2 separate regions of the Homo sapiens genome follow, and region 1 is linked to region 2. The links come from fine-mapping of genetic effects on gene expression. A gene starts in region 2. The other region holds a variant in brackets. All regions are shown on one strand. Distances are from middle to middle.

What was found. PIP is the estimated chance that this variant, and not a neighbour inherited with it, causes the effect.
Region 1: its variant is the best candidate, but not a certain one, in a credible set for the expression of CASP6 in whole blood (TOPMed, PIP 0.65).

What each region holds. Positions count from the first base shown.
Region 1 is chr4:109,648,278-109,653,277 of GRCh38, forward strand. The region is part of intron 1 of MCUB (mitochondrial calcium uniporter dominant negative subunit beta); the gene reads left to right. Among named protein-coding and RNA genes, the nearest start is that of CASP6, 53 kb to the right of the region's middle. The variant C/G (reference allele first, on the strand shown) is at 2,910.
Region 2 is chr4:109,700,742-109,706,268 of GRCh38, forward strand. It overlaps CASP6 (caspase 6), which reads right to left and starts at 2,704. Exons shown (of 7, transcript NM_001226.4): 1 at 2,615-2,704. The coding sequence starts at 2,654. RefSeq lists enhancers at 1,306-1,365, 2,126-2,185, 3,076-3,125 and silencers at 2,366-2,475, 2,626-2,915.

The DNA.
Region 1 (5,000 bases), 53 kb before region 2:
GTTGAGATCAGTTCCAAAGGGATGACTGACTTAAATGCCTGGTTCTCAGAAGGGATGTAAATACAGTCTAGCTGAGAGGGAGCTGGTGAGAAATTACAGTAGGTGGAAGTTATTGTTGGCTGCTAGCCAAATATTGTATGTATGTATTCTGTTTCTGTACTGTATTAGCCAAATGCCAAACGTATTCTGTTTCTGTTCTGTTTCAGTCATTTTGTGGATTAACTACTCGTCTTGGGCTGTCCAGACCAGAAGAAGAAAAAATTTATTTTCACAGTGATGATTCATGTAGTACCTGAGACTGAAATATTAAGATAACTTTCTAGTCTGTGCTACAAAATGCAGTTTTTGTTAGGGAGATACATAGATCTAGAGGCAAGTAAGAGTTCATCAAAAGAGAGCTCCTATATAGCAGTTTGATTTTTTTTTTTTTTTTTGGTACAGAGAAGCAAAAAAAAAAAAAAAAATCATTAAAGCTTGACGCTCAGTGTGAGATTCTACAAAAGATCATGATGCACCACAGGATGTAGAACTAATGAACCCAAAGACAAGCTTCAAAGCAAAACAACTATGTAACTGAGGAGTACAAAGCAGCCTAACCCCAAAAGCACCATTTTTCTTGCCTCACACAAGAATTTCTTGTTTCTGTGGAGTACAAAAGTACGCTATATTAAGTGACACGGAAAACAACATTTAAAATGATGGAGTTTTTATTTATTTTATGCATATATTTTACCAATTTGCTTGTTCAGAATTTCTCATGCATTCTTATTCCTTGTTCGTGTTACATTTTGTTCACTACAGCTGAGTAGTGCCTTCAATGAAAGCCTATGAGTAGTTAAACCCTCAGTCTGTGTTGTTATAAATCCAACAACTTCTGTCCTTTTAACTGTTGAGTTTAATCTGTTTACATTTATTGTGATATCAGACAAATGTGGATATCTATCTACCACCTTATTCTGTGCATTCTGTTCATCCTGATTTTCCTTTGCTCATTTTCTTTCTCCTTTCTTATCTTCTCATAATTTGGCTAAATGTTTTTTTATACTCCTTTATCTCTATTGGTTTGGAAGTACACACTTTTTTTCTCTCTTCATTTAGTTTTACATCCTGTGGTGTGTAAGTTTTCTTACATCCTGTTTTCTTATGTGTTTGATTTCCTTTTTCCTGCAAAATGCTTTCAGTAAACATGTTTTAGTCGCTCAGTCTCAGTTTTGTTCAAAATGGTAGGTTATCTGACTATAGAATTCAAGGTTGATTGTTATTTCCCCTCAGAACTTTGAAGATACTCCTTTGCCTCTGCCGTCTATTAATTCACCTTATGTAAATTTAATTGCTTTCCTTTGTAGGCAATCTCTTTTTTTTTCAGGCATTATAAGAATTTTTTGTTTCTGGGGTTCTGTAGTTTCATCACATTGTGTCAGGGACAGAGTTAATTTCATTTTTCCTGCCTGGGACTCATTTATTATGATTTTTTAAAATAGAAATATGGTTTCACCCTGTTGCCCAGGCTAGTCTTGAACCCCTGGGCTCAAATAATCTTCCTGCCTCAGCCTCCCAAAGTGTTCGGATTACACGCATGAGCCACTGCGTCCAGCTAGGACTCATTATACTTCTTAAATCTAAGGACTCATCCTGAGAATCCTTAGATTTGAGAAGTGGGGCCTGATTTGGGGAATCTGAACCCAGGTGTGGTATGGAGGAGCAGCCCGGCTAACTGGATTAAATGAAAAGCAACAGATTTGGTTCATACCATTTGTTTATTCAAAACTATCATATCCCCCTATCAAGGGGGGAATGGTAGGCTCCTCAAGATGGGTTTGAGGTGAGGTGTAAACTAAAAGGAAGACCTGAGTTTTGGTGAGTCATTCTTGAAATTCAGCTCTGCATGCATGATGGGTTTGTGTAAGATTTTCAGAATTTTAATAATAACCCTCTAAAAAGGGTTGTTACAGGGTATGGTAGTTTCTCTTTTAAGCTTTACTAACATGTCTGAGGATTGTCAATATTCTTGGGGTTTCTAAATAAAAACTTGTACAGGAGTGTCTTTGCTTTAAAAAATTTTTTATTTTCAATTTCCCAAGTAACCATAGTTTCCTACTGGCATGCAAAAAAGGTTTAATATTTGACCCCTTGTTATTAATCACTTATCTTTGTATATGGTAATTTTGGTGTTGTAAACCTATTGTTTTTGAATTATTAATTTTTTTTACCCTGGCCTACCAGTCTCTCAGAATTGTGTGATTTTGAAACAGTCTCAAACATAACATAAAGAAAGTTGTAACCACAGTGGGAAGACTATTTTGTTTCTGAACTATTTGAGAATACATTGCAAACTTGATGCCAGTTCCCCTGAAACATAAGAACATTCTCCAACTTAATGACAAACAACCATCAAAATAGGAAAATTAATGTTAGTACATAACCACCATCTAATTTTTAGACCTCATTAAAATCTTGCCAATTTTTCCAATAATGTTCTTTATTGGCAGAAGTTCAGAATCACAGTTTAATTTAGTTGTCATGTCTCCTCCACTCTGGATCAGTACAACATTCTTTGACATTCATGATTTGACTCTTTTAAAGATTACAATTATTTTGTAGAATGCCTCTGTTTGGGTTTGTCTGGTATTTCCTTGTGATTTGCTTCAGATTATATAGCATCTTTGTCGGGAATATCTCAAAAGTGTCCCATGTATTCTCATTGCATGATTTCAACTCACCCCATTACTGATAATATTAATTTTGATCAATTAAGATGGTATCTGTCAGGCTTCTTCCCTTTGAAGTTATTATTTTTCCTTTGGGATTAATGCTTTTGTGTGAAGGCATTTTAAAACTGTGTAAATATCTCATTCCTTATTAAACTTTAAATTTATTCAGTTAATTATGTCAGAATACACTCATGGTTT[C/G]CTATCTCCTTCAGTGGATTATAATTTGTTACTATCATTATTTAATGCTAAAAATTGTTCCAGATTTTACCACAGGGACACCCTTTGACCTGCCTTCTGGGTTCTTTTGATAAGTCTTCCATCATCCATTGAGCACTTCCTTGCTTTCTAGTACAGCAAGATGCTCTAGGTTCATTTTGTCCTTATCCATGCCCAGCCCTAGAATAGCCATTTCTCCAAGGAGGCTTGCTTCCTCTTAGGTAAGCATAGTATCTGGTGCCAAGAGCTAGATGCTAGATGTTATTAGAAGTGCCACTGCTCATAGGCTCTCTCAGAAAGAGAATATACATATACATATATATGTCAGTATGAAAACATAAATATGTAAAATTTAAAATTTCTATACTTACATACACACGTACATTAAACATTTGCATCTTTTAAAAATTTTATATTTAATTTCATTTAATTATATTTCTTTACATTATTACACATTAAAAACCATGAATTCACACCAGTACTTCAGTCTAACACTACAGGGTTTATTCTACTCCCTTTCCATAATTGTAGTTCCATTCTTGCACAGGATAAATCTGACTTCCATTATTCTTGATATATTTTTTTCTTCTGCATGTGACAGTCTTTCATCTCCACTACCACTCCTTCCCCTGCAGAGATGGCTTTCTTACCCCAACTGGGCTCCAACATTTTTTTCTGAGCCTATTTCCCATGTGGAGGCCGTCTTCATCCCATTTGGGCTATGACACCCACACTAATTGCGCCTCCACTGTTTAGAAACCTTCCTCGCCACCCTTCTGTAGGCCAAAAGTTAAAGTTCAAGGTGTTGGCTCAGTTGGTTTCTTCTGAAGCCTTCTTGGCTTGTACATGGCTGTTTTGTAAATGGCTGTCTTCTCCCTGTGTCCTCACACCGTCTTTCTTCTGGGTGTACATGTCTGTCCAAATCACCACTTCTTGTAAAGACACCAGTTATGTCGGATTAGGGCCTATACTAATGACCTCATTTTAACTTAACCTCTTTAAAGTACAGTCACATTCTGAGGTACTAGGGGTTAAGACTTCAATATATGAATTTGCAGGGGGTGGGGCACAGTTCAGCTCATAATAGTGTTCTATTCAGCTTCCACTTGAGTTTAGTTCTCTTCTTCCTGAAGAAGTTCTTTAGCAAAAATCTGTGGAAATAAGCCATAATCTTGATTATACCTGAAAAACTCATTTCTTTCAGCCTTGCTGTAATCTCTTTTGTGCTGCTGTAACAGAACCATAGACTGGGTAATTAATAATGAACAGAAATGTATTTAGTTCACAGTTCTGGAGGCTGGAAAATCCAAGATTGAGAGGTCGCATCTGGTCAGGTTCTTCTTGCTGCATTATCCCATGGCAGAAGGTGAAAGGGCAAGAGGCGGAGAGAGAAAGCTCAATCAAACCCGCAGCCTCAGGCCCTTTTATAATTGGCATCAATCCATTTATGAAGGTGGAGCCCTCATGACCTAAGCACCTCCCATTAGATCCCACCTCCCAGCACCGTTGCATTGGGCATTAGGTTTCCAACACATGGACTCTGGGGGACACAATCAAATCACAGCAAGCCTGAAGTAATTTTCCTGAGCATAATATTCTAGGTTGGTAATTATTTTCCTTAGCATCTTGAAAACATTCCTGCATTTATTTAACGTGTATTTACTGAGCCCCTATTATGTTTCAGGCGCCATTCTAGGTGCTGGGGATACAGCAGTGAACCAGACCAAGTCCCTGCCTGCTCCTGGGGAGTATGCACTCTAGTGGGAGGAAATGAAATGGCATTTGTACAAATTGTATGAACATAAGCTTTCATTTCTCTAGGGTAAAGAGCTAGGGGTGGGATTACTGGGTCACATATAAATGTATATTTAACTTTATAAAGAACGGTCAGGCTGGGTGTGGTGGCTCACGCCTGTAATCCCAGCACTTTGGGAGGCTGAGGCGGGCGGATCGCGAGGTTAGGAGTTCAAGACCAGCCTGACCAACCTGGTAGAAACCCCGTCTCTACTAAAAATACACAAAAAATTAGCCAGGCTTGGTGGCATGCACCCGTAATCCCAGCTAGTCAGGAGG
Region 2 (5,527 bases):
AGGTCCAGTGGCCACTCTAGCAAACACTGAATCAGAACAAAAAGCTATGGAGACAGATGCCAGGACCTAAGTTCCAATACTTTTCTGGAGTTGATAAACTTTACCCACAGATTGAGAGAAAATAACACATCATGACCACCTTGAGCTGTGTATCCCAAGAAGACAAGCTTTCCAGAAGGGGGCACTTAAGTATCATTATGCCGCATTAATATTTATTTTTTATTACTATCTTTTTGGGATGGAGTCTTGCTCTGTTGCCTAGGCTGGAGTGCAGTGGCGTGGTCTCGGCTCACCACAACCTCCGCCTCCGGGTTCAAGCGATTCTCCCGCCTCAGCCTCCTGAGTAGCTGGGATTACAGGCATGCGCCACCACACCCAGCTACTTTTTTTTTGTATTTTCAGTAGAGACAGGGTTTTGCTATGTTGTCCTGGCTGGTCTTGAACTCCTGGCCTCAAGTGATCCACCTGCCTCAGCCTCCTGGAAGTGCTGGGATTACAAGCATGAGCCACCACGCCCGGCCTGCGTTAATATTTAAAAACCTGGATAAAGTAAGAAATAGCTTTATTGATATGGAGAAAATAAATTTTAATGAAGGAGCTACCCTGTATAACAGATATAGAAATTCCTTTTCATCTGCAATCTACTTATCAAAAATGTGCCCTTCTTTAAACCTGATTCTTGACCTCTTTTCACTTTTTTTTTTTGAGACAGAGCCTCCCTCTGTCGCCCAGGCTGCAGTGCAGTGGCGCAATCTTGGCTCACTGCAAGTCCACCTCCAGGTTTCAAGCGATTCTCCTGCCTCAGTCTCCCCAGTAGCTGGGACTAGAGGCGCCCACCACTGTGTCTGGCCCTCTTTTCACTTCTCTTCCTTTGCAGGATAATGTAACTGCCACCTCCTTATTCCTTAAATCAGCTTAGGTTTTACAAAACTAATCATTCCTTTTTTCACCTCACTCTAATTTGATAGTCCCTCCAGATAATCCTGCCAGCTACCATTTGTTGATGGCCTGATGCCTTAGATACCTTATCTCACAGCTCCACAGCTCAGGAACAGGGACAGAGAAAGTGGGCCAGGCGTGCCAAGGTCGGCAAAGTGAAGCTGGGATTGAAAGCCAGCCCACCTACAGATTCCAAAGTCTCTGTAGGCCCATCCCCACGCAGCCCCTCCCACCCGAGACCGGCTACCTTTCTAAACTTTGTTCAACTTCCCAAACGACTTCGGTCATTCTACTGTCATCGTCTTCATTCACTGCACTCTCTATGAAAATCTACCCATCGGCTCCATCAACAATGTATTTAGTAACCCTATGTAGAGTAACCTCCATCAGGCCTAGAACATGCACTGGGGAGTGCGGTGGAGGAAGAAGAGGAAGGGAGCAGGTGAGTGAAGGAAAGCCCCGGCTTCCCGCCCCTAGAGACTGCAACTGGACCCTGCACTGTGCCTCCAGGACAAGGCTACCTATCTACCTCCTCTACGACCATGTGACTTTTACAGCTTGCCTCTGGAGCACCATTTCCTTTGTGCAGCAAAATATAAAGAGTTCTTAAACAAAGGCACTCTAACCAACTGCAGGCGTTTCGTTCTTTTTTTTTTTTTTTCTTCTTGATTCGAAGTCTCACTCTGTCGCCGAGGTTGGAGTGCAGTGGGGCGATCTCGGCTCACTGCAACCTCCACCTCCAGGGTTCAAACGATTCTCTTGTCTCAGCCTCCCCAGTAGCTTGCGCCCAGGCCTGGCTAATTTTTTTGTATTTTTAGTAGAGACGGGGTTTCACCGTGTTAGTTAGGCTGGTCGAGAACTCCCGACCTCTGGTGATCCGCCCGCCTCGGCCTCCCAAAGTGTTGGGATTACAAGGCGTGAGCCACCACGGCCGGCCAACTGCAGGCGTTTCGACCTTTTTGTTTGTTTCACTCTGGCCAGGCTTGAAGTTTCTAAACTTTACCAGTAATAAGTGACAGAACGTACGCTCTTAGCAGTTGATTACTTTGCAGAAAAAAGTTATTGTGGTTTTGGCTCAAACCGACAGACAGCAGCAGGTTTCCTGGATGAAGAAGAGAGATACCGGGGTGTGCTGGCCGCCAGGAACTGGCCGCCTCCAGCTGAAGCCCGGGAGGACCCAGGGTCTTGGCCCGGGCACCCCGCGGGCCTGTTATGTTTTCATTATGACTCGGCGGAACAACCCCTCCTTTTCACTTTTCGAAGTGAGCAAACAAAAGATCCAACCCCCAACATTTCAAACGGCCAGGTGTGGGGGAACGCCAGGCCCGCGTGGGGACAGCCTTTTAAGGTTTAAACAGCCGGGGCGCCCCGAAAGCGCTCATCGCCCCGGAGGACAAAGGCGGCAGGGGCACGCCCCGGCGCCGGCGTCGCTACTCGGGACCGCCAGGAGGCGGCAGCCAGGTCCCCGAGTGTTTCTTAGACTGAAGCGCGAAACCGTCCCCACCCGCCCTGAGCGCTTCAATCCAAGAGTGCAACTTCTCCAGGCCGCCCTGCAAAGCCGAAGGAACCCGCGGCCCCACTCCGGTCCGCGCGCCCGGTCCACTAACCCTCGTTTCCCCTCCAGCCGGAGCAAGACGCAGACCTGCTCGGTGCCCAGTCGACGCCCCCTGCCTACCTGCCGGGTGCCCCCTGCGGAGCCCCGAGGCCGAGCTCATTGCAGCCAAACGCGCAGCCAGACACCTTGCCCTCCTCTTCCTGAAGCCACAGGCTCCCGGGCCCGGCCCCGCCCTCGGCCCTTCCTCGGCGGCCCCGCCCCCTGCCCCCGAGCGTGGGGCCAGTTGGTTCTGATTGCGCGCCGCCCGGGCTCCCGTGGATCGGGCTGGTCCTTCCCAGAGTTAAAGCTCCTCCCAGTCGCTCCGGAGCCCGCGGGGACCAAGAGCGCGGGGGCAGGGAGAGGTACGCGGTCTTCGCCTCCAGGCCCGCTGGGACTAACCGTGCCCTGGGGACATGCCAGTTGCCACCCGGGGGGACACACAGACCGCCTAGCCCGAGGCAATTTCACATCACTTGTGTGAGCTCGGACTCATTTAATCCCAGCTGCCCCAAACATTTGCTATTCCTTACTTTGCTATGCCTGTACTTTCTAGAGGTACAGGCATAGATTGTTTTATACCGCTTAGCAGATACTGCCTGTATTTCAACATTGGCTCGCTTTGTGTCTCTGTGTCACATTTTGGTACTCTCGCAATATTTCAAAATTTTTCATTGTTATTATGTCTGCTGTTGTGATCTGTGATCAGTAATCTTTAATATTATTGCAATTGTTTTGGGGCACCATGAACCGCGCTCATAAAGGAAGGGGAAATTAATCCATAAGCCCTGTATGTGTTTGGACTGTTCCACCGAACTTTCCCTTCTCTCTCCCCCTCCTGGGGCCTCCCTATTCCTGGAAACACAATTTTGAAATTAGGCCAACTAATAATCCTACAAAGGCCTCTAAGTGTCCAAATGAAAGGAAGAGCCTGTCACTTTAAATCAAAAGCAAACATGATTAAGTTAGTGAGGAAGTAATGTTGGTAGGCAGAAAGCTAGGCTTCTTGCTCCAGTTAGCCAAGTTGTGAGTGCAAAGGAGAAAAGCCAAGTCATGAATGCAAAGGAAAAAATTTTGAAGGAAATTAAAAATGCTACTCCAGTAAACACACAAAAGACAATAAAGCTAAACAGCCTTATTGCTGATATGGAGAAAGTTCTAGTTGGTCTGGATAGAAGATAAAAACAGCCACAACATTCCCTTAAGCCAAAGCCTAATCCAGAGCAAGGCCCTAACTCTTCAATTCTATGGAGGCTGAGAGAGGTGAGGGAATTGCAAAAGAAAAGCTGGAAGCTAGCAGAGAGGATGGTTCCTGAGGTTTAAGGAAAGAAACTATCTTCATGACATAAAAGTGCAAGGTGAAGCAGCAGGTGCTAACGTAGAAGCTGCATCAGGTTATCCAGATCTAGCTAAAATCATTGATAAAGGCAGCTACACTAAACAACAATCTTTTGTTTTTGAGACAGTCTTGCTTTGTCACCAAGGCTGGAGTACAGTGGTGCGATCTTTTGCAACCTCTGCCTCCTGGGTTCAAACGATTCTTCTGCCTCAGCCTCCCAAGTAACTGGGATTACAGGATGTGCCACCATGTCCAGGTTAATTTTGTATTTTTAGTAGAGACAGAGTTTCACCATGTTTGGCCAGGCTGGTCTTGAACTCCTGACCTTGAGCAATCTGCCCGCCTCGGTCTCCCAAAGTGCTGGGATTACAGGTGTGAGCCACCGTGCCCAGCCAAAACAACAGATCTTAAATGTATATGAAACGGCCTTCTATTGGAAGAAGATTCCATCTAAGACTTTCATAGCTAGAGAGAAGTCAATGCCTGTCTTCAAAGCTTCAAAGAACAGGCTGATGCTCTTGTTAGGGGCTAATACAACTGATGACTTTAAAGCCAACATTCCTTTACCATTCTGAAAATCCTAGTGCCCTTAAGAATTATGCTAAATATGATCTATAAATGGACCAACAAAGGCTAGTTAGTGACAGCACATCTATTTACAGCATGGCTTAGAGAATATTTAAAGCCCACTGTTGAGCTCTAGTGCTCAGAAGAAAGGTTCCTTTCAAAATATTACTCCTCATTGACAATACACCTGGTCATCCAAGAGTTCTGATAGAGATGTACAGAGACTGATGCTGTTATCGTGCTTGCTAACACAACATCCATTCTGAAGCCCAGGGATCAAGGAGAAATTTTGACTTTCAAGTCTTATTTACAAAATACATTTCATAAGGCTATAGCTGTCATCATGATTCCTCTGATAGTTCTGAGCAAAGTAAATTGAAAATCTTCTGGAAAGGATTCATCATTCGAGATGCCATTAAGAACATTTGTGATTCATGGGAGGTCAAAATATCCACTTACGGTATGTAACTAGAGACTAGAGGGGGAAAAAAAGAAAAACGAAAAATTAAAAGTACATGTATCAGCCACAGTGGCTCATGCCTGTAAACCCAGCACTTTGGGAGGCCAAGGTGGATTGCTTGAGGCCAGGAGTTTTGAGACCAGCCTAGGCAACAATGCAAGACCCTGTCTCTACAATTTTTTTTTTTTTTTAATTAGCCAAGAGTGGTGGCACATGCCTGTATTCCCAGCAACTCAGGACACTAAGATGGCAGGATTATTTGAGCCCAAGTTTGAGGCTGCAGTCAGCTGACTGTGCCACTGCACTCCAGTCTGGGTGACAGAGTAAGACACTCTTTAAAAAAAAAAAAAAAAAAAAAAAAAAAATATATATATATATATATATATATATATATAATATATATAAAATACATATATAAATATTTAAAAATTATATATATTTCAATTGGCACACTGGGTGGTATTTTACAGGCAGGACAACATACCTATCCATTTTATATATATATATATATATATATATATATATATATATATACACACACACATATACACACACACATACATTATACATAGGTATATGCATATATCTCCACATTAACAGGAGTTTGAAAGAAGTTAATTCCAATCCTCAT